Linked DNA regions of Homo sapiens: region 1 is linked to region 2. Evidence: fine-mapped expression QTL. A gene starts in region 2. The other region holds a variant in brackets. All regions are shown on one strand. Distances are between the middles of the regions. Region 1 overlaps MKI67 (marker of proliferation Ki-67). Region 2 holds the start of MKI67 (marker of proliferation Ki-67).

The links. PIP is the estimated chance that this variant, and not a neighbour inherited with it, causes the effect.
Region 1: its variant is fine-mapped to the expression of MKI67 in whole blood (TOPMed, PIP above 0.99).

What each region holds. Positions count from the first base shown.
Region 1 is chr10:128,090,373-128,102,216 of GRCh38, reverse strand. MKI67 (marker of proliferation Ki-67) reads left to right here. Exons shown (of 15, transcript NM_002417.5): 14 at 516-959; 15 at 2,962-5,558. The coding sequence ends at 3,027. Among named protein-coding and RNA genes, the nearest start is that of MKI67, 30 kb to the left of the region's middle. RefSeq lists enhancers at 9,829-10,328, 10,329-10,830. The variant A/G (reference allele first, on the strand shown) is at 6,568.
Region 2 is chr10:128,119,400-128,131,243 of GRCh38, reverse strand. MKI67 (marker of proliferation Ki-67) reads left to right here and starts at 4,821. Exons shown (of 15, transcript NM_002417.5): 1 at 4,821-5,145; 2 at 5,488-5,668; 3 at 8,075-8,153; 4 at 8,248-8,363. The coding sequence starts at 5,577. RefSeq lists an enhancer at 4,332-4,561 and a silencer at 4,672-5,041.

The DNA of each region.
Region 1 (11,844 bases), 29 kb after region 2:
TGTCACTATTTTAACTATCAGAACAATATCAATAAGGAATGTGTATTCTTGAGAAGGGGAAACTGTCTGGACTGTTAGATAGAGAGGCTCCCACTGCATGCAGAGAAGTTTGGGGAAACTCCAGAAATGGCAATTTCCTGTTCTGCCTTAGCAGTGATGGTTAAAGGAATAGGAATTCATTTACTCCCTGTAAATGAATGAATAACGGACCTTCTTTCTATAATGTAAACTGTAAAAATTAGATTTGATATATATCTTATTAGGCATTGTTATTGAAATTTATCCTGAATTCCTTATTTATAATTTGTCAGCAGAGACAGTCATTTCTCCATAGGAGCAAAGTACCAAGGCATTACCTTGACTATCCTAGATGACAAGTCTCTTAGACAATTCATCAGTGTGTGATTTTCAAATGATTTCTCCTTTTAGGTTACTGTTGATTGTGCTCCCTGTTGAATTTTGAAGTTTGTTTTACTAATTATTGGAATTTTGTGGATGTCTTCTCATTTCTTTAGGGAATATCCCTGCGCTCCAGACGCCAAAATAAGACTGAGGCAGAACAGCAAATAACTGAGGTCTTTGTATTAGCAGAAAGAATAGAAATAAACAGAAATGAAAAGAAGCCCATGAAGACCTCCCCAGAGATGGACATTCAGAATCCAGATGATGGAGCCCGGAAACCCATACCTAGAGACAAAGTCACTGAGAACAAAAGGTGCTTGAGGTCTGCTAGACAGAATGAGAGCTCCCAGCCTAAGGTGGCAGAGGAGAGCGGAGGGCAGAAGAGTGCGAAGGTTCTCATGCAGAATCAGAAAGGGAAAGGAGAAGCAGGAAATTCAGACTCCATGTGCCTGAGATCAAGAAAGACAAAAAGCCAGCCTGCAGCAAGCACTTTGGAGAGCAAATCTGTGCAGAGAGTAACGCGGAGTGTCAAGAGGTGTGCAGAAAATCCAAAGAAGGTAAGCCATTTACTGTTTCCCTGTTTTAAAAGACACAGAATGTTTTGATGTATTTTTTGCCCAAGGTTGCAAAGGCAAACAAAAAGCATTATCTTCAACAGCACTCTGCCAGCTCCCAGTTACATTAATGGAAGGAGCATTATGCTAAGACATAAATTTGGTCATTTTAGTTATATTTTGTTGTGTCTACTTTGGGAATTTCACTTCAAATAGCAAATTCACGTTATGAAGACTTTCTTCAGAAAGAAAAGGAATTTGTCTAGTGGCTAATTTCTGACTGCTTATGATGTACCTCATGATACAATTGTAGGTAGATGTCTTCAGCCTTTCTGTAGTTCAAAATCACCTCTTGAAACAGGAAAATTCTTTTTCCAAAAAAAACTATTGAAACAGAAAAATTTCCAAGGCATTCTTTGGAAAGGCAGAAGGAACAGAAGTTGGGATGTCCCTGAGACACATGCTCACTATGTGAGAGTTCCTGGTCAGTGGGGGATGCGTCTGCCCTCCAACCCTCCTCCAGCCAGAGACTATCTAAGCTAATGAACTTTAAGTGCTACTGAAATCACATCAAGTTGAGCCACTCATAATTACAAGCATGTGGACAAATCCATAAGAATGATTAGATTCCATTAGTGTTCTTCTGGGGAATACTTGGTTTAGCTAAAATAAAAATAGGTTGAATTGCTCCCTTTTTGTGAGCAATTCACAAAAATATAATATAAATTTAATTCTTAGCACACACAAAATTTGGACCTAAAACTACCATATTCTGAGTTCAGCAAACGAAACTCATGTAGCAATAACCTCTTCAGATACAGAATTCTGGCAAGTACAGCTGTCCAGACAGACCCTCTTCGGCACAAACTAGGAAGCTTCAACTGCCAAGAAAAGGAAAGATTCCCAGGTGTCCCCAGTACCTGCTGCATAGCCAGGCAGCCAGTGGAGGGGGAGGGCTTGTGTGTCTGGATGGTGGGCAGGAAGTCCTAGTGGGGAGATGCCCATAGACTGTTCCAGAGAGGGAAGAGGAGAGGCTCAAGAAGGGCACTGATGCCCACACAGGTGTCCTAAGTCAGAGACTGTACTTCTGGGGCAGGCTGGAAGCAGAAGACACCCGACAGTGCCAGACAAGGTCCTAGAAACCACAGGCACACCAGGGACGCAACAGCTGACGTGGGTCAGCACGTTCACCCGTCGAGTCTTACAATAAAACGCAGGCTCCAGGCGCTTACCGAATTCACAGTCTGGAAGGTGCTGCTTCCTCAGAATGAAACCAAAGAAGGGTGAAAGCGAATCTTTTAACTAGGATGATTCCTAAACACAGAGCAACCAGGCCCAAGGCTGAGCCAGGCCTGGTGTGTTCTGCCGGGGGCGTTCCAGCCTCTTCTCACACACAAGCACCCAGGAGACGCCCAACACACACATGCTCCTCTTTGCCGAGCTCTTCGGTGGGTGTCGGTAGTCCTAGAAAATGCATATATAAGATAGATTTTTTCCAGTAAGAAGCTTGTAGCCATGCTTTTCACCATGGTTCCTCTCCCTTAGCCAAGGGGTGAGAACTACTGCAAGAGTAAAGGCCAAGGCAGGTCTCCTGCATGCAAGTTGGGCATGCTTCTGTCTACAGGGGTTCCTTGGTTTAGGAGACCCAAAAGACTTAATCCTGGTTGGATTCACTTTTTCTGAGTGACATTTTTTAGTTTGTGAAAATGTGTGCATCGATGAAGAAATTTTATTATGAATTAGCTTAAAAATGCATTAGGAACTTCTGTATGAAAAGATCACATTATTTAAGTGTAAAAAAACTGCATAATAAAAGCAGTTCAAGTCAAGAAAAACAATGTTAATGGAATATATTTTAAAACTTATTTCCAACCTCAAAATTAATTTTCTGCAACTAAGGACCTGCATAATACCTAGTAAGCCTTTGGGGTTTTGCAGAGGAGGTCGATTCTAAAAATGGGTGTTTAAATTACTTAAGAGTTCTATTTTTTTTCTTCCCACACAGGCTGAGGACAATGTGTGTGTCAAGAAAATAAGAACCAGAAGTCATAGGGACAGTGAAGATATTTGACAGAAAAATCGAACTGGGAAAAATATAATAAAGTTAGTTTTGTGATAAGTTCTAGTGCAGTTTTTGTCATAAATTACAAGTGAATTCTGTAAGTAAGGCTGTCAGTCTGCTTAAGGGAAGAAAACTTTGGATTTGCTGGGTCTGAATCGGCTTCATAAACTCCACTGGGAGCACTGCTGGGCTCCTGGACTGAGAATAGTTGAACACCGGGGGCTTTGTGAAGGAGTCTGGGCCAAGGTTTGCCCTCAGCTTTGCAGAATGAAGCCTTGAGGTCTGTCACCACCCACAGCCACCCTACAGCAGCCTTAACTGTGACACTTGCCACACTGTGTCGTCGTTTGTTTGCCTATGTCCTCCAGGGCACGGTGGCAGGAACAACTATCCTCGTCTGTCCCAACACTGAGCAGGCACTCGGTAAACACGAATGAATGGATGAGCGCACGGATGAATGGAGCTTACAAGATCTGTCTTTCCAATGGCCGGGGGCATTTGGTCCCCAAATTAAGGCTATTGGACATCTGCACAGGACAGTCCTATTTTTGATGTCCTTTCCTTTCTGAAAATAAAGTTTTGTGCTTTGGAGAATGACTCGTGAGCACATCTTTAGGGACCAAGAGTGACTTTCTGTAAGGAGTGACTCGTGGCTTGCCTTGGTCTCTTGGGAATACTTTTCTAACTAGGGTTGCTCTCACCTGAGACATTCTCCACCCGCGGAATCTCAGGGTCCCAGGCTGTGGGCCATCACGACCTCAAACTGGCTCCTAATCTCCAGCTTTCCTGTCATTGAAAGCTTCGGAAGTTTACTGGCTCTGCTCCCGCCTGTTTTCTTTCTGACTCTATCTGGCAGCCCGATGCCACCCAGTACAGGAAGTGACACCAGTACTCTGTAAAGCATCATCATCCTTGGAGAGACTGAGCACTCAGCACCTTCAGCCACGATTTCAGGATCGCTTCCTTGTGAGCCGCTGCCTCCGAAATCTCCTTTGAAGCCCAGACATCTTTCTCCAGCTTCAGACTTGTAGATATAACTCGTTCATCTTCATTTACTTTCCACTTTGCCCCCTGTCCTCTCTGTGTTCCCCAAATCAGAGAATAGCCCGCCATCCCCCAGGTCACCTGTCTGGATTCCTCCCCATTCACCCACCTTGCCAGGTGCAGGTGAGGATGGTGCACCAGACAGGGTAGCTGTCCCCCAAAATGTGCCCTGTGCGGGCAGTGCCCTGTCTCCACGTTTGTTTCCCCAGTGTCTGGCGGGGAGCCAGGTGACATCATAAATACTTGCTGAATGAATGCAGAAATCAGCGGTACTGACTTGTACTATATTGGCTGCCATGATAGGGTTCTCACAGCGTCATCCATGATCGTAAGGGAGAATGACATTCTGCTTGAGGGAGGGAATAGAAAGGGGCAGGGAGGGGACATCTGAGGGCTTCACAGGGCTGCAAAGGGTACAGGGATTGCACCAGGGCAGAACAGGGGAGGGTGTTCAAGGAAGAGTGGCTCTTAGCAGAGGCACTTTGGAAGGTGTGAGGCATAAATGCTTCCTTCTACGTAGGCCAACCTCAAAACTTTCAGTAGGAATGTTGCTATGATCAAGTTGTTCTAACACTTTAGACTTAGTAGTAATTATGAACCTCACATAGAAAAATTTCATCCAGCCATATGCCTGTGGAGTGGAATATTCTGTTTAGTAGAAAAATCCTTTAGAGTTCAGCTCTAACCAGAAATCTTGCTGAAGTATGTCAGCACCTTTTCTCACCCTGGTAAGTACAGTATTTCAAGAGCACGCTAAGGGTGGTTTTCATTTTACAGGGCTGTTGATGATGGGTTAAAAATGTTCATTTAAGGGCTACCCCCGTGTTTAATAGATGAACACCACTTCTACACAACCCTCCTTGGTACTGGGGGAGGGAGAGATCTGACAAATACTGCCCATTCCCCTAGGCTGACTGGATTTGAGAACAAATACCCACCCATTTCCACCATGGTATGGTAACTTCTCTGAGCTTCAGTTTCCAAGTGAATTTCCATGTAATAGGACATTCCCATTAAATACAAGCTGTTTTTACTTTTTCGCCTCCCAGGGCCTGTGGGATCTGGTCCCCCAGCCTCTCTTGGGCTTTCTTACACTAACTCTGTACCTACCATCTCCTGCCTCCCTTAGGCAGGCACCTCCAACCACCACACACTCCCTGCTGTTTTCCCTGCCTGGAACTTTCCCTCCTGCCCCACCAAGATCATTTCATCCAGTCCTGAGCTCAGCTTAAGGGAGGCTTCTTGCCTGTGGGTTCCCTCACCCCCATGCCTGTCCTCCAGGCTGGGGCAGGTTCTTAGTTTGCCTGGAATTGTTCTGTACCTCTTTGTAGCACGTAGTGTTGTGGAAACTAAGCCACTAATTGAGTTTCTGGCTCCCCTCCTGGGGTTGTAAGTTTTGTTCATTCATGAGGGCCGACTGCATTTCCTGGTTACTCTATCCCAGTGACCAGCCACAGGAGATGTCCAATAAAGTATGTGATGAAATGGTCTTAAAACCCATGGTATTTTTATTATAGGGAGAGTGGGGAAAGAAACTAAGTGTGGGTGGGGCAGACAGGCCAGTGTAAGAGAGACTGGTTCATTACGTTCCATTTTCATTTCTACAAGGACTTGGCTGGATGGTCATTTTCTCTCTTGGCCAATAAGTCATCGCAGCTGCTTTTAGTCCTGCAGGAATGGCCTGCTGTATCTCGAGAACTACCTGCAACCGCAGCTGTGCCTGCTTTGTTGCAACAGAGGTGCTGAGTTGAGGGATGGGGATTTGACCCAGGGCTGCCCCAAGTCAGCAGATGAAAATACATGCCCTGACTTTCCTCTGGCAACCCTGATTTGACATGGATCCCGGGAGTGAATTTGCTGGCAAGTTCCAGGGGCAGTAGCCTGCGGTAGGTCAGTTAGTCCTGAAGAAGAGGCCTTTCTGTCGGAGAGAAAAGTTTGCAGGTGGGTGCATCTACCATCTTGAGAGGCTGAGGAGGGAGGGAGAGCCGTGCTCGGTGGTCAGTCTGGTGAAGGAAGTGGGTTCAGTCTGCAGCCCACATCCTGGGCTGTCATCAAGAATTAACATGGCAAACGGCGACTCCATAAAGTAAACTGTAGCTACTTAACTAAATGATTTCGTGTGGCTGAGATCCTACTGTTTGCTGGGTTTCCTGGAAAAGTCCTCTAGATGAACTGCAGGAATCTCCTGGCACTCTGGTTACAGCTGGAGAAACTGATTTCTGTGCTGTCCAGGTGCTCCCAGACCCCCAAGGCATCTCCAGGACACAGTCACCAAACCCCCATCCTGGTATTACTGGCATTGAGTGCCACGTAGGCACACAGCACTCCATAATTTGGAAATGTGGATTTCATTGCTATTGCTCTTCATGAGGGAACAAATAATACCCATGATGTATTGGCAGGAAGCCACGCCCCCCCTCCCCCGCTGCCACCCCCACAGCGCGCACAGTGATTTCAGGAAGGAGGTTTGATTGGTTTGTTGTGTGTTGCCCTGCAAGGGCCCCA[A/G]TCAGCTTCCTGCTCATCAGCCCCATCTCAGGCAAGTCCCACATCTGTGATGTCAAGCCCTGAGCCGGGTAATTGGACTTGGATACCTGCTTGACTCATCTTTCCAGTGAGGTTCCTAAGGAGCATCCCCAACCCCACCTCCCAGGGGGAGCTCTCGATGTCACCTGAAGAACAAACAAACAAAAACTGTGTTGATGGTACAGTCCCAGGGCTCCGTGACTGGACAGGCTCCCTGCGTGATACACCTGTGTATGTCACTACAGAAATACAGCTGGTGCAGGCCTGTCCGCCTCTCTCACAGGTCAGAGTGTTCTAAAATCCATCCTGGCCCTTGTTGTCTGTCTGCTTGGGGTTAGGGCAGGTGCTCCTTTATCATTTGTAAAGTTTATGTGATGTCTGGTATGTGTTCCACACCCTTGCAGAGTGTAAATTCCTAGAGAGAGTTCAGACTTCGGAGTCAAATGCACAGGTGCAAATTCCAGCTTGTCTAATTTGCTGCTGTGTGAACGTGGACAGTCTTTCAACTTTGCTAGTTTCCCATCTGTAAAATGAGGCTGTTCAGTACCTGAGCACATAGCATTGTTGAGAAGATTAAATGAGACAATATGTGTAAAACACTTAGCATTTTACCCAGAGCTTGGTAAGCATCAATACATGCTAATTATCATCATCATCAGAAGATGAATATATTTATTAGATGCCTAAAACTCCAAGATATTTCCCTTGGCTCATAAATTCTTTATCACTAGGGATTTCTCTATGGAAGTGAAGGAAGAATCTGGAACGTAACAGGCCTGAATAACCAGGGGCAGTGGCTCACACCTGTAATCCCAGCACATTGGGAGGCCAAGGCTGGAGGATCGCTTGAGGCCAGGAGTTCAAGATCAGCCTGGGCAACATAGCGAGACCCCATCTCTACAAAAAAAAAAAAAAAAGAAAAAAGAAAAGAAAAAATTAGCGGGCATTGTGGCACATACCTGTAGTCCCAGCTACTTGGGAGGCTGATGTGGGAGGACTGCTTGAGCTCAGGAGTTCAAGGCTGCAGTGAGCTATGATTGTATCACTGCACTCCAGCTTGGTCAACAGAGCAAGACCCTGTCTCAAAAAAGAAAAATAAAAATCCTGAATAATATGTCTATGTCTTCATCGAGCCCACGTATTGAAAACTACCCAAACCACCAACAATGCAAAGAAACATTATTTAACTAAGAGTCGAGTAACCAAATTTCAGGGTTATCCAAACTGAATATGGCCTCTGCAGGAGAAAAGAATATGTGTGATGTGGCAGCCACAATCTGATACCATATTAACACTGTCTTTTATTTTTTTTTTTTTGAGACGGTCTCACTCTGTTGCACAGGTTGGAGTGTAGTGGCACAATCTTGGCTCACTGCAACCTCTGCCTTCAAGGTTCAAGAGATTCTCCTGCCTCAGCCTCTGAGGAGCTGGGATTACAGGCATGCACCACACATACCTGGCTAATATTTGTAATTTTTTTTTTAGGAGAGACAGGGTTTCACCATGTTGGCCAGGCTGGTCTCAAACTCCAGACCTCAGGTGATCCAGCCACCTTGGCCTCCCAAAGTGTTGAGATTACAGGCGTGAGCCACCATGCCCAGTCAACAGTGTCTTTAAATGACATCAGATCGCAGAACTTTGCTGAGCTTGGCCCAGACACAGGTCTGGCTAAAACAGGTGGTGCTGGGACCAGGCATGGCCAGGACATAGGGAAGCACATCCCTGCATAGAAAAGGTTCTGTGGATTTTAATCCAGGTCAGCAATTAGCAAACTTTTTCTGTCAAGGACCAGGCAGTAAATATGGCGGCTTCGTGGGCCATACTGTCTGTTATGCTGACTCACCTCTGCTGTTAAAGAACAGAAGCGGCTGTAGGCAACACGCAAGCAAACAGGCATGTCCAAAAAATGGCTAATAAAAACAGGCTGTGGGGCTGGGCACGGTGGCTCACGCCTGTAATCCCAGCACTTTGGGAGGCTGAGGCGGGTGGATCACTTGAGGCCAGGAGTTCGAGACCAGCCTGGTCAACATGGCGAAACCCAGTTTCTACTAAAAATACAAAAATTAGCCAGGTGTGGTGGTGGGCCCCTGAAATCCCAGCTACTCAGAAGACTGAGGCAGGAGAATTGCTTGAACCAGGGAGGCGGAGGGTGCAGTCAGCTGAGATCCAGCCCACTGTACTCCAGCCTGGGTGACAGAGTGAGATTCCATCTTAAGCAAAACAAAACAAAACAAAACAAGCAAGAAAACAACAACAACAACAAAAACCAGGCTGTGGGCCCATTTTGACTGAGGACCTTGGTTTGCATATCCCTGATCTAGAGAAATGAGTGATTTAACATATATGCCTCCTAGGACATATCACATTGAAATTAGCAGCCCTTGCAATATAACGGGTCATGAGCAGAGGGTGCATTTCACTTTGGGCTTTGGGGTCTTCCCGGGCCCTGGAACCCCCACCGGCTCCCAGCCCCAGGACGTTGGAAGCTGAGAGGCCTGGCTTCCAATCCCAGCCCTGTCCCTTGCTCGCTGCATGACTTGGGCCCATTGCTTGGCCTTTCTGAGCCTCAGTTTCCCTAGCTGGGAGAGTGAAGATGGCAATTTCTTGCCTCGTAGGGTTGTGAGGACAAAAGAAGAAAACTCGGGTGGATTGTGTAGCCTGGCCCCCATTCTCAGAAGGTCTCCAAGCGGTGCCGTCTTCCTCTTATCCCAGCGTGGCCTCAGCCTTCGAGAGGCCTAGAACTCTGGGAAAGGAGCAGTCAGGACTGGACACGACTCCAGGCTTTTCTTATTTCTTGTGTGGGGTCTGGAAAAGGAGAAGTGCAATTATATCCAAGGCCCCTCTTGGGCAGGGGTCTCAGATCCAGGCCAGGCTGATATGAGCAAGGGGAGGCGGGTCAGGCCAGGCAGCACTGTCAATTTTGATGTTGGGAGGGAGGAGGGGCATGACTGTGTATCAGCAAATTCCTAAATTTCCACCCTGGCTCGGGAGATGCAGCTTGTGCTGAAGTGAGTCACTTATTCCTGGGCCCCTCATCTGCCTGCTTGCTTCCATGTCCCCTAGAGCCAAAAACAACTATAGGAGCAACTTAGGGGAAAAGTTACCTATATTTATATATAAGCGTATGTATTTATATATAAATATGATAACTATAGATATAATCTAATATATTGTGTATAATATAAATTAAATATATTTAATGTAATGTATATAACTTAAGTATATTATATATTCATAACTATATAAAATATATAAATATACTAAATATTATTCACTAGGTTTTCATCATTGGCAACCTAAGTTCTATATAAATATATAAATATTATCTATGAAAATTTATACACAAATATGTATATAAAATGTTATAAATATATACATACATATTTAAGTAAAAATAATATATACATAAAATATATTATATGTTTATATAGATTTAGGTTGGCAATGATAAAAACTTAATGAAGAATTTTTAGTGTAATAAAAACTAGTCTCGTGGTAGCTCTTTGTGTTTCAGAATCCAGCTATTTGGCTCTGGGCCCGCCCTCTGTTACTCCGAGAAAGCACTGCTTTGGAGGTAACACAACGCTAGGTGGCCCCTGAGGCTCCCTGAGCACCGTCCGATACCCCTCTCAGAAGCACCTCTGCCCCCTCCTCTGTACAGCCCGCTTTGCTCGCCTGCCTCTTCCTTTGGATTCCAGGTTGGTCGGGGAAGCAATGGGCCATGTGTGTGCACCGTCTGTGCCTGCCTTCACCCACACGAGCCTGTTGGAAGACGACAGCCATATGGAAGACCGCTGAGCTACCCCGGCCCCCCAGCCCAGGCTAGTTGGGGTTACCCAACTACCAGCCAATCCCCAGACGTGAATGTGAATAAGCCCAGCCAGCATCACAGAGCTGCCTCGTCAATGTCTAGCTGACCCCAGATGCCACCTAAACAATTTGGGTTTCTCACGGCAGTTCTCTTCCCAACCTCTGTTCCCCTGGGTTCCTAAGAACTAAGGGTTGTGCCCACCAATCAAAGCAAGAGGGAAACGGGCCTTGGATTTTAAGGCGTTGCACTGCTGTGACTTGAAAAGGGATATGGTTTAAAATCATTCATTTAGGCCGGGCATGGTGGCTCACGCCTGTAATCCCAGCACTTTGGGAGGCCGAGGCAGGTGGATCATGAGGTCAAGAGATCGAGACCATCCTGGCCAACATGGTGAAACCCTGTCTCTACTAAAAATACGAAAATTAGCTGGGTGTGGTGGCTGGTGCCTGTAGTCCCGGCTACTCAGGAGGCTGAGGCAGGAGAATCGCTTGAACCCGGGAGGCGGAGGTTGCAGTGAGCCGAGATCGTGCCATTGCACTCCAGCCTGGCGACTGAGCGAGACTCCATCTCAATAAATAAATAAACAAACAAATAAGTAAATGATTAAAAATCAGTCACTTAAAGACATATTCTAAGATGAGACCCTCTTGCTCTATAAAACTGAAGGTCGTGTCCACTAAGAAGAGTGGATCTGACCTCAGCCCTGCACTGTGACGCCACATTCCATTAGGGCAGAGGAACAGCATCTGGCAAGAGAGGTCGTCCCAGAATTCTAAAGAGGCAGGATGGCCCTAGTATTCAAACTTGGACCACACAGATCTGCACGTCTCTCATCCCAGAAAGGAGAACCCAAAGTATGTGTCTCGGTTCATGATTCTGAGGATGAGGGAATTATGGAAGGCACCAAGTCCATTCATAAAACACACCACCCCCTCCCTGTCCCGGTTAATGACAGTGGGTGGTGGCTTGAGCATCAAAGTGGCCCATGATGTCTTGGTTTTGCTATCTGGTTATGCCATCTGGCTTTCTTGGTCTTCGTCCATTCATTTCCCTGGAGTCCTGGCCATGCTTTGCTTCTTACTAACCTTATGCAGAAGCCAAGGCAAGCGAGGACGAGGCATACTTGGAGTATTCCCACTGGAGTAACTTCTGCAACTAGAAGCTTTAGAGCTGTGACTGCCATACAGAGCCAAAGAAATGTAAGGTGCAGGGCGAGTGAGGGTCTTGGGAATTGCTGGAGATAATGGTGCTCTGTGCTTGCGGCGAGAGCAGTGAAGTGGTGAGACCAGTTTCTGAATGTAAACTTTTTATGACAACGGCTGCGAAGATGCCCAAAGTGGGCCCCTGTTGCCTATCATTGAGGTTTTGAGGCCACTTTTTAGGGAGTAATGCTAGGCGATACAGCCCCTCCCTAACCAGGCTTGCAATGGATTGCATGCCTGTTACAT
Region 2 (11,844 bases):
GGCAATAACTGCAGGTAATAGTGAAGAATCCTTCAGGCATGATAGAGGAACAGACTAAGTGTGGGAAAAGGAAGAACTAGGCCGGGCGCGGTGGCTCACGCCTGTAATCCCAGCACTTTGGGAGGCCGAGGCGGGCGGATCACGAGGTCAGGAGATCGAGACCATCCCGGCTAAAACGGTGAAACCCCGTCTCTACTAAAAATACAAAAAATTAGCCGGGCGTAGTGGCGGGCGCCTGTAGTCCCAGCTACTTGGGAGGCTGAGGCAGGAGAATGGCGGGAACCCGGGAGGCGGAGCTTGCAGTGAGCCGAGATCCCGCCACTGCACTCCAGCCTGGGCGACAGAGCGAGACTCCGTCTCAAAAAAAAAAAAAAAAAAAAAGGAAGAACTAGTCAAAATTGCTAATAAGGCCGGGTGCGGTGGCTCATGTCTGTAATCCCAGCACTTTGGGAGGCTGAGGCAGGCCGATCACCTAAGGTCAGGATTTTGAGACCAGCCTGATCAATAGGATGAAACCCCATCTCTACCCAAAATACAAAAATTAGCTGGGCGTGGTGGCATATGCCTATAGTCCCAGTGACTCGGGAGGGTGAGGCAGGAGAATTGCTTGAACCCAGGAGGTGGAGGTTGCAGTGAGCCGAGATCATGCCCATTGCACTCCAGCCTAGGCAACAGAGCGAGACTCCATCTCAACAACAACAAACAACAACAATAACAGCAAAAACTGCTAATAAAAATTTTAACGAGAATATTTCAGGAAGTGAATGAGTTGTGTTCATCTTCAAATGTGTGAAAAATTATTCAGTGAAAAGATGGGCAGCTTAGTCTTATGTTGCTCTAGACACTATCATCAGGAGCATTGGGTACAAATAGGAAAACAATCAGAGCAGTACATACAGGGAATGTGTATTCTGCAGTCAACATAATTGTTGGAGTTGTTAGAGAGGTTACTAGTGTGTGGAGAGAAGTATGACGAAAGTCCAGTCATGAAGAGTTTTGTTTTGTTTTAGCAGAGATGACTAAGTGATAAGAAATTCATTTGATGCCTGTGTAATGGGGCATTTTGCTATAATGTAAGCTGTTATAATCAGACTTTTCTTGTTCATAGATTGGCAAAGCATCATATTGGATATCTTAGATTACTGACATCTTAAAAAATTAATCAGCCTAATATTTTTAAATGCATTTCTTTTTGAGTTTACTTTTAGTTGAATTTTGAGATTTGTTTCAATCATTATTGGAATTTTGTAGATGTCTTCTGATTTCCCTAGGGAATGCCTTTGTGTCCAAGAACAAGAAACATAACCAATAAAGAACAATACATCCGTAGTTTTCCTATATTAGTAGAAACTATTTAAAGGAGATGAAAATGGAAAGAAGATCATGAAAAAAATAAAACTCCAAAAATGGAGCTACAAAACCGACTTGTAGGTCCAAGATCAATGAAAGTAGAATACGGAAGTCTGGAAGGAACTATACATTGTCCCTGACTTACGTAACAGAGAAGAAAGTTGGGAAGAAAAGTGTGGGCAACCTCCCCACAAGAGACCAGATTAAAAGCCAGGAAGAAGTCTGGGCACGGTGGTTCACGCCTGTAAACCCAGCACTTTGGGAGGCCGAGGCGGACGGATTGCTTGAGGTCAGGCGTTCGAGACCAGCTGGCCAACATGTGAAAACCTGATTCTACTAAAATTACTATATATATATATATATATATAGTAATATATATACTAATTATATATAGTATATATACTCTATATATAATTGTTATATATAGTATATATACTATATATAATTACTATATATACAGTATACTATATATATACACACATACTATATACTATATATAGAGACAGTATACTATATATATACACACATATATATACATATATACATATATATAGCGACAGTATACTATATATATACACACACACACACACACACATACATATATATACACACACACATAATATATATATATATATAAACTGTGCGTGGTGGCTCACACCTGTAGTCCTAGCTACTCAGGGGGCCGAGGCAGGAGAATTGCTTGAACTCAGGAGCCAGAGGTTGCAGTGAGCCAAGACTGTGCCACTGCACTCCAGCCTGGGTGACAGAGTGAGACTCAGTCTCAAAAAAAAAAAAGTGAAACCCCATCTCCACTAAAAATACAAAAAAAAAAAATAGCTGGGCTTAGCAGCAGACACCTGTAATCCCAGCTACTTGGGAGGCTGAGGCAGGAGAATCGCTTGAACCTGGGAGGCGGAGGTTGCAGTAAGCAGAGATTGCACCACTGCACTCCAGCCCGGGGGACAGAGTGAGACTTCATCTCAAAAAAGAAAAACAACAACAGCAACAACAGAAAAGAAGTAACTCAAAATGTTTCAAAGAAGTAACTCAAAATGTTTTTCTTTCTTTCTTCCTTTTTCTTCTCTCTTTCTTTCTTTTTCTCCTCTCTTTTTCTTCTCTCTCTCTTTCTTTCTTTCTTTTTCTTTCTTTCTTTCCTTCGTTCTTTCTTTCTGTCTCTCTCTCTTTTCTATTTTTTTTTTTTGATGGAGTCTCGCTCTGTTGCCCAGGCTGAAGCGCAGTGGCGTGACCTTGGCTTACTGCAACCACTGCCTCCCGGGTTCAAGTGATTCTCCTGCCTCAGCCTTCCGAGTAGCTGGGACTACAGGCGTGTGCCACTACACCCGACTAATTTTTGTATTTTTAGTAGAGATGGGGTTTCACCATATTGGTCAGTCTGGTCTTGAATTCCTGACCTCATGATCCACCCACCTTGGCCTCCCAAAGTGCTGGGATTACAAGCATGAGCCCCTGCGCCTGGCCTAGCACCTTCTAGTTCTAATTAGGCTGCATCCATGAGGGTGGAAGAACTGTCTCTGGAAACAAGCAGTAATTAGGATGAGAAAAGTTGTGTTTTATGGGGTTATGCAGTGGTGGGCTTTGTTTGATCGTTTAATGGGGGAAAACATGGAAACTCATGCCCCCTAAAACGTTTATATAATAGTATCCCCGCACTGAATTTTTCTACGTCAGACTTGGCCCATACAATTTAGAGTTGCTGTCCTGTGCTTTTATGTTGCTTTCCCAGTTTCTCTATTTCCATCAGCAGCTGATATCTTTGTAGTTGCTCTAGAGCAGAGGGCTCAGTCTTTTCAATCTTGTGGTCCCTTTACACTCTTAAGAATTATTGAGAACCACCAGGAATTTTTGTTAATGTGGATGGGTTATATCTAGCTATATTTATATATTTTAAGTTAAGGCTAAGGAATTTAAAAATATTCATTTATTGATTCATTTTAAGATAGTGATGCACCTATTTCATGCTAACACCAATAACTTATTTTTATGGAAAAAAAACAACAAAATGAAAACAGCGCTTTAGTTCACATTTTTGCAAATCTCTGTAATACCTGGTTGAAACGGAGACAGTGGGAGTCTCCTCACTGCTTCTGCATTTGCAGAACCACACCCCACACTCTTGGGAGCATGAGAATGAGAAGGGCAAGTAACACAGAGGGTCATTAGATAAATGGTTTTGACCTTATGGACTCTCTGAAAGGAATAGGAAGTCCTCAGGGGTCCCCTGCATCGAGGCCTCCCTGATCAAGGGAGCCAAGCTCCAAGGGTTGCTGGGGAGCTGGAGGAGGTGAGATGGGGCAGAGAGGCCGTTGTCACCAAAAGCGTGTTTAGGCTCCATTCACTTCACCCCAGGTGGCCTACTGAGCCCACATGGCCACCAGCGCAACTGAAGCAGACCCCGATAGAATCCTGTGTAGAATTATTTTAGGATTCACCCATCTTGGCATGCACAAGCCATTTCAATTGAAGAATGTTTTCTAATAACAAAACATTGTAAACCTAAGTATGTGGCAATAGTAATGATTAAGTAAATTATGGTTTCCCGAAGCCCAGTGCTCTGCAGCCATCAGAGAGTAAAAGCGAGAATGTGTTCAGTGGAGATAGCCTCAGGATATTTAAAAGCAGAGAGCACAAAGTATAGAATCGTGTTGTGTATGTTATGACCTTTTTTTCTGTGCTTTTGAAAAAGAGAATACACGTATAGCAGGAAAAGACACACCAAACTACTTTATATAATTGGTTGTTTTTGTGTTTGGTAAGATGTATGCACTGAAGAGGAAGGTTTCGATTTTTTTTTTTTTTTTTTTTTTTTTTTTGAGACAGGGCTTTGCTCTGTCGCCCAGGCTGGAGTGCAGTGGCGCGATCTCAGCTCACTGCAGCCTCGACCGCCCCGGCTCAAGCGATCCTCCCACCTCAGCTGTCCCAGTAGCTAGAACTACAGGGGCGCCACCACGCCTGGCGAATTTTTTGTAGAGATGGGTTCTCTCCAGGTGGCCCAGGCTGGTTCTGAACTCCCGGGCTCAAGGGATCTTCCTGCTTCAGCTTCCCAAAGTGCGGGGATTACCGGCGTGAGCCACCGCGTCCCGCCTGTTTTTAATTTTTAGCAGTTTTAAATCTTCTGGCAATGAGTAATGTTATAGTGTCCCAGATGTTTGGTCCTTTAAGAAAAGGATAGCAGGACGGGTTATCTCGGTGGGAGCGTGTTCCACCTCTGCCCTCCGCCAGCCGCCCTCGCCGGGGATGCACCCAGGTATTTTCCTCCGGATGCGTGAGTGGCTCGCCCGCGGACACGCCAGCCCCGCCCCGCGAGCCCGGTTTCCCCGCCCCCTCCCCGCCCACGCCCTGCGCTCCCTTCCTATTGGTCCCATGCCGCGCTTTCCCGTTCAATCGCAGCGCTTAGCGCCAGAATTTGAATCTTCGTTTTCGTTTGAATTGGGCGGGCGCGCCGGGCTGGAAGAAGGAAGTGGAGGGCTGACGCTGCGGGCGGGCGGGCGGGCGGGAGGACTCGACTCGGTGGGAGCCGCTAGAGCCGGGCGCCCGGGGACGTAGCCTGTAGGGCCACCGGGTCCCCGTCAGAGGCGGCGGCGGGAGCAGCGGGGACTGCAGGCCGGGGTGCAGCGAACGCGACCCCGCGGGCTGCGGCCCGGTGTGTGCGGAGCGTGGCGGGCGCAGCTTACCGGGCGGAGGTGAGCGCGGCGCCGGCTCCTCCTGCGGCGGACTTTGGGTGCGACTTGACGAGCGGTGGTTCGACAAGTGGCCTTGCGGGCCGGATCGTCCCAGGTGAGCTGCGGCCGGGACTCCTGGGAGCTGTCCGGGGTCGAGGGCTGAGCCGCGGGGACCCCCCGAGCTCTGCGGGGACGGGCAGGGGACAGACGCGCGGCCTGGGCCCGACTCCTCCTGGGCTCTGGCGAGGGCGTCTCGGTGGAAGCTCCCAGGAGGCGCAGGCGCTGGCGACAACACCCCAGCTGCCGGACTTTGGGGCGCCGGGGGCTGCGGTCGGATCGTCCTGGGGTCCCCGCTAGCTAGCTGCGGTGTGCGCTTCTGTGGCCGGGGATAGGTGAATTGGGCACGGGGCCCTTCTTAGCTCCTTTGCTATCAGAGTAACTCGCACCTCTTTTGCAGTGGAAGAGTTGTAAATTTGCTTCTGGCCTTCCCCTACGGATTATACCTGGCCTTCCCCTACGGATTATACTCAACTTACTGTTTAGAAAATGTGGCCCACGAGACGCCTGGTTACTATCAAAAGGAGCGGGGTCGACGGTCCCCACTTTCCCCTGAGCCTCAGCACCTGCTTGTTTGGAAGGTGAGCCCCGCGGGCGCGCGCGGACGTTTTAGCTGAGAAAGAGGAAAATACCTTAGTCACAGAATAAAGTCCAGAAACGCGCTCTAGGATTGGGTCCTGCCGTCACTTTTCCTTGGTGCTTCTCCCATTCGTTACTAAGTTGACATAGTTGTGTTTTTTTGTTTTGTAAGTATAAATTTGATGCTAGTTTGTATGTTTAAGTGGTTTTAAAAATCAAGCCAATTAAAAAAATCGATTTGCTAATGTTGCGGTAAAGAAAGATGTAGATGATCTTCATATGTCACTGGCTGCAGGCAGGCGTCTGAAGACACTGTGCGCCCCCGGGTGCCTCCACAGTGGGCATCCCTGGCCACTGGGGACACAGAGAATGAAGGAAGGAAGCCATACACTTGTCTCTTGGCTCCTTGTGGCAATAGGAAAATGGGACAGAAAGTCTTCCTGCCTGGAATTCGAGAACGTTTCCTCTTATATTGCTGTCCTGTTTGGTGGTGGTAATAACCCTGTCCCTGTATAACAGGTATAGTTGCTGACAGTGCCCCATCAGCCTCTGACATGTGTCCCACTAGAGGCCTGAGAAGGGGGGTCATTTCCCGTGTGGTCATTTCCCAGACCACACGGGATTCAGGCCTCACCCTGTCCTCCCAACCCCATCCCGGCCTCACCCTGTCCTCCCAACCCCATCCCCTACCTTGTTCCTCCCGCCTAAGGCATTCCAAGCCTTTGTTCACCTTGGTACTTCTTACACACTTGGAAGTTTACAATGGGAAAGTTCTCCCCTTCCTCAAGCTTGTGTGATTTCCATCATTCAGGCATCAGGTGAAATGTCACCTCTGAGGAAGCCTTGCATGAAAACTTGTATTTCCAACCCCACAGCTTCAGGGGTGAGTTGTGGGTTTGTCTCCCACTAGGCTGAGCTCCCCAAAGGCAAAGACTGTCTTGTTACTAATCACGTGTGTAGGGCCAGGGATGGTGTCTGGCATAGGGGGTGTGATCAATACCTAGCATTCTGGCAAGGGTCAGTAGAAACATGGGCTGGAGCCATGGATTTGCAATCTCTTGAGAACAGTGGTTCTCACAGGAGGGTCATCTAACCTTCCAGGATTCATTTGAATTTCCATGTCACAATATAGGACAGGGGCATGCGCTGTCATCGCGGAGGAGAGGTCAGGGTGGGCATCCTACCAGGCTCAGGGCAGCCCCCACAATACAGAAGCATCTGGCCCAAGATGTCAACAGTGCCAAAGCTCAGAAACACCCATCTATAGTCGTCCTCCTGCCAAACAAATTCTCAGTTGTAAGGGATAGTCTTTCCTTTGCTCTGATGTCCTGTTACCTTAAAATCAAATTATTTTATTGGGGTTAAGGAAGCTTTTCACTTTCCATAGATACCTTTCTCTTGAAAAGGAAAAATATAAACATTTCATCTCCAGTGGCAGTCCTTTTGCTTTTTTATACAGTACTCCTTGAATATATCTTCATGCAAGATTTTATAATTTAGAAATAATTCCTAAGTGTTTGGTCACATGACCTGGGTAGGAAGAGAGATTCTTAGACTCCAAAGGTTCAGATGGAGAACAGACAGGCCATTGCATAGTTTATTCAAATTTTTAAGATCACAGGCTAGAACAGGAACACTGAAGACTCCAAGAACCTACTAACAAACTCTTCTGATTATTAGTTTGTATAGGTTTAGGAATTGTCTCTTCTGCTACTTTGCCATGGTGTTAGCTTTCTGTGGAAAAACAAGTTGAATTTAGATTTTTTTTTTGTGTCGCTTGCAAATTAGTATTTTTATTGTTTAGAGACTTGAATCTGTCAGTAAATTCAGTGTAGTTTTAAAACAACAATGAAAAGCTTACCCATAATGAGCATTTACTATGTGCTAGGCAAATTAGTGACATGTACAACCATTTAATTGAACATCACATGATGTAGGTTCTAATGTAATTTCTTTATTGTATATGAAGAAACTGATGCACAGAAGTGCTAGCATCAAATAAGCACATTTGGGGATGATTAAACCTCTAAACATATTTAACATTACAAACAAACGTTTTTGAAAAAGCACAGAGTATTAAAAATAGTCATTATCCAAAATTGATGTAAGTATTCCTTTGTGTCTTTTAAGTATAGCTTTTCATATAAAAGGTAATTCGATTTGTGTTCTAGTGTTTTCCCTTGTTTTTACATACTCTCTGTTTTAAAGATCTAATAGTTACATGTTTAATACTTCCAAAAGTTCTTTGCAAAATGCAAGATCGTTTACATTGCCCATTTTGTTTGTTACTCCTTTATGTCATATTTACAGATCAAACATTCTAGTCAAATTGTGTTTTATTTTGGGAAATTGAGGTAATCTTTTAAAAAGTTGCAGCAACCAAAAAAACCTTCTTCTTTTGCATGAAGGGGTATTGAATGTGACATCCGTATCCAGCTTCCTGTTGTGTCAAAACAACATTGCAAAATTGAAATCCATGAGCAGGAGGTGAGTGGGTTTTTTGAAGATCTACTTTTAAAGCTTTTTAGTTCACTTTTAATCTGTTCATTAGTTACATATTTCCCCTTCTTTTCACTTGCAGGCAATATTACATAATTTCAGTTCCACAAATCCAACACAAGTAAATGGGTCTGTTATTGATGAGCCTGTACGGCTAAAACATGGAGATGTAATAACTATTATTGATCGTTCCTTCAGGTAGGTAAAAGCTGATTGGTCTAACAGTAAATGTCATCTTCTGATTAACCATAAACTAGTGTCAAAGTCAACTGTCATTCTTCTTTAATGTTCATGGATGTCAAAGTATTTCAGGTTTTCATTCTCAACACTAATCTTAATTTAAAAGGATATGGATCTAGGAAGATGACTAATTGGGACAAAATGTGATGGAATTCAAGGATTTGGGTGCAAATAATTATGCAGAGGGAGGTTGACCTTGTCCTAAAGGAGTTTGTTATTTTCTTCCAAGTGTTTTGAAACTGCATGAGATTTTTCTATTCTTTTTTATTTTAAAGCAAAATATACACAGAGAAAAAGGTACAAAACAAGATGGACAGGTCAATTTATCATGTGAACACCCTTTTGATCACCACCTATTATGGACTGATTTGTGCTCTCCCGAAATTCATATTTTGAATTCCTAACCCCTCGTACCTTAGGATGTAACTGTATTTGGAAAGAGGGCATTTAAAAAGGCAATGAAGGCTTTTTGAGCTATTAGTATGGGCCCTAATCTGATGATTGGTGTCATTATAAGTGGAGATTAGGGAACACGTGCACAGAGGAAAGCCCATGAGAAGAGGCAGCAAGAAGGCAGCCATCTTCAAGTCAAGGAGAGAGGCACAGAGAAATCCAATCCAGCTGACACCTTGCTCTTGGACTTCCAGCCTCCAGCACTGAGAAGGGCATGTCTGTTTTTCAAGGCATTCAGTCTGTGGGACTTTATTATGGTGGCCCTAGCAGACTAATACATCCTCAGCTCATATAGAACATTTCCAGAAGCTTTTTAAAAATGCTGTTGTCTAATCACTACTTCATTCCCTCAGCAAGTAAACCACCGTTTTGGCTTTTAGGATATCATAAACGTCTCGAGTTTCACTACCTAAGCATGGATCTCTGAACACGATAGTTTTGTCTGTTCTTATAAAAGTCCTTAACAGTGATACAAGAATGTATACATTTGTGCCTGGCTTGTGCTTTTCTGTGTGTGAGATTCATAGCATGTTGGACATCTCTGTAGTTTGTTCCTTCTCATGGCATAAGTATTTCACTGAAAAAAAAATGTTTAATATATACAATAATATACATAACTATACAGAATTCATTCATTCTTGATGGACATTTGACTAATGTCTAGTCTTTGAAATGTGTCAAGGTTTGCTTTATGAGCAGATATGGCTAATTATCTTACTAATCTGCCTTGTGTAATTGAAAACTGTATTCTACAGTGTCTCATATATATGTAATATATAATTATTATATATATCACTTATATAATATATAATTATAATATATTATATATAATCATATATAATTATAATATAATATATAATATTATATAGTATATACTATATGTTATATAGTAATATATAATATAATAATATATATTATATATACCATATAGTATATACTGTATACAGTATATACTATATGGTATATATAATACATATACAATATATATACAATATATTTATATTATATAATATATAATATATACATATATAATATGTAATATATATACACATATACAGATACACACACTCCCGTTAGATTCAAATCTATAATCTTAGTAAATTTTCCCCTACTATTATTCTAAGAGATATGTTCAAATCACCTACTGAGGATTGATTGATTGATTTGTTTTTATCTCTATCAGTTTTTGCTTTGTATATTTTGAGGCTGTACTATGGTGTACAAACTTAGAATGATGTCTTGGTGCATGGAACTCTGTCATTTAGAGATGTCCTCTGTTTTTAGTAGTGCTTTCTTTTCTGCTTAATGTTTCCTTTGGATGATGAGTATGGTTAAACTAATTTCCTTTTGATGAGTGCTTGTGTAGTATAACTTTTCCACCCCCTTAATTTTAACTTTTCATAATTGTTATGGTTTAAGTTGTCTCTTGGAACCTGTTGTCAGGTGACCTCTTGTGTTTAACTGGAATATCTTCTTGCTGGATTGATCCTTATATAAAATGTCCTTTTTCTCTATGAATAACTTTTGTCTGAGATGATTTTGTCTCATGTTAGTACAGTACTCCAGTTCCCCTCTGCTTGCTGTTTGCATGGTATATCTTTTCCCATGCTTTTATTTTAAAAGATTGTGTCTTTGAATCAAAATTGCGTCTCTTGTAGACAACGTATTAGTTGGGTCATTTAAAAATCCATTCTGCTAAATGAATCTCTGTTATTGTCTTCATTTGTATTAGCTGTTTTTTAATGCACCACTTAAATTCCCTAGTCATTTCTTTTACTGTGCTTCTGGGAAGTTTGCCTTCATTTTTAAAGAGTATTTTTATTGAATACAGACTTCTATGTAGGAAGTTTTTCTTTTTTTCTTTTTCTTTTTGTTTGTTTGTTTGTTTGTTTTTGAGACAGAGTCTTGCTCTGTCACCCAGGCTGGAGTGCAGTGGTGTGATCTTGGCTCACTGCAACCTCCGCCTCCCGGGTTCAAGTGATTCTCATGCCTCAGCCTACCAAGTAGCTGGGATTACAGGCACGCGCCACAACACCCGGCTAATTTTTGCAATTTTTAGTAGAGACGGCGTTTCACCATGATGGCCAGGCTGGTCTTGAACTCTTGGTCTCAAGTGATCCACCTGCTTCAGCCTCCCAAAATGCTGAGATTACAGGCATGAGCCACTGCGCCCGGCCTATAGGTAGGAAGCTTTTGATGTTTATTGGAGGGCTGAACTATTTTTCAAAACAAGATATTATCCAAATTGAGATAAATTCAGATGATTAAAGACATCCAACAAAGATTTGAAAGTGAATCTTAGAAAGAGAGACTTGATTCCAAACTCTCTACCATGAGAAATAATATCAGATGTGTGACTGCTTCAGATCTTACTTAGGTTGCCTATAAATTCAAATCAGGTCATTTCACTGAGGCCAAAAGTTTTCATTATGCAAAATAAAGGATTGCTTCTATGACTTGATCACTGAGGTTTGCCAGGACAATTATGTATCTTGCTAAAGGTGATCTTCTTAAGATGTACCTGTCTTGTTCAGATACAGACTGAATGTGTGGGAAACTGAAGTGATCATAGTGTTCTAAAATATAGGTTTGTAGTTACCCTGTAGTGTAAGTGTAGCTTTTTATTTACCCTGAAGTATGTAACTTCACAACGTGAGAAAGATTCAGTTACCTACAGGCTTCCTGGCTGGCCTTCCAAGCCATCCGATGATTTCCATGGACTTAAACTAGAAGAAACTTGACTTTGCTCTCATGTGCATTAGCTTATGTCATAGAAGGTGCTTGGTAATATTGTCAAATCATACCTGGGCTGTTCGTCAGTGATCAGAAGTTAATCTGGGTCCCCAGCCTCTGACAGTGGTATTTCAAAACAAACTCGATGCAACTAATCCTAGTTTTTAGTGTAAAAGCACTTTTCTAACTCTAAATTTATTTCTTTGTATAAGGTGATGTCTTGAACTAAACCCAAAGTTTGTTCGTTGATCCT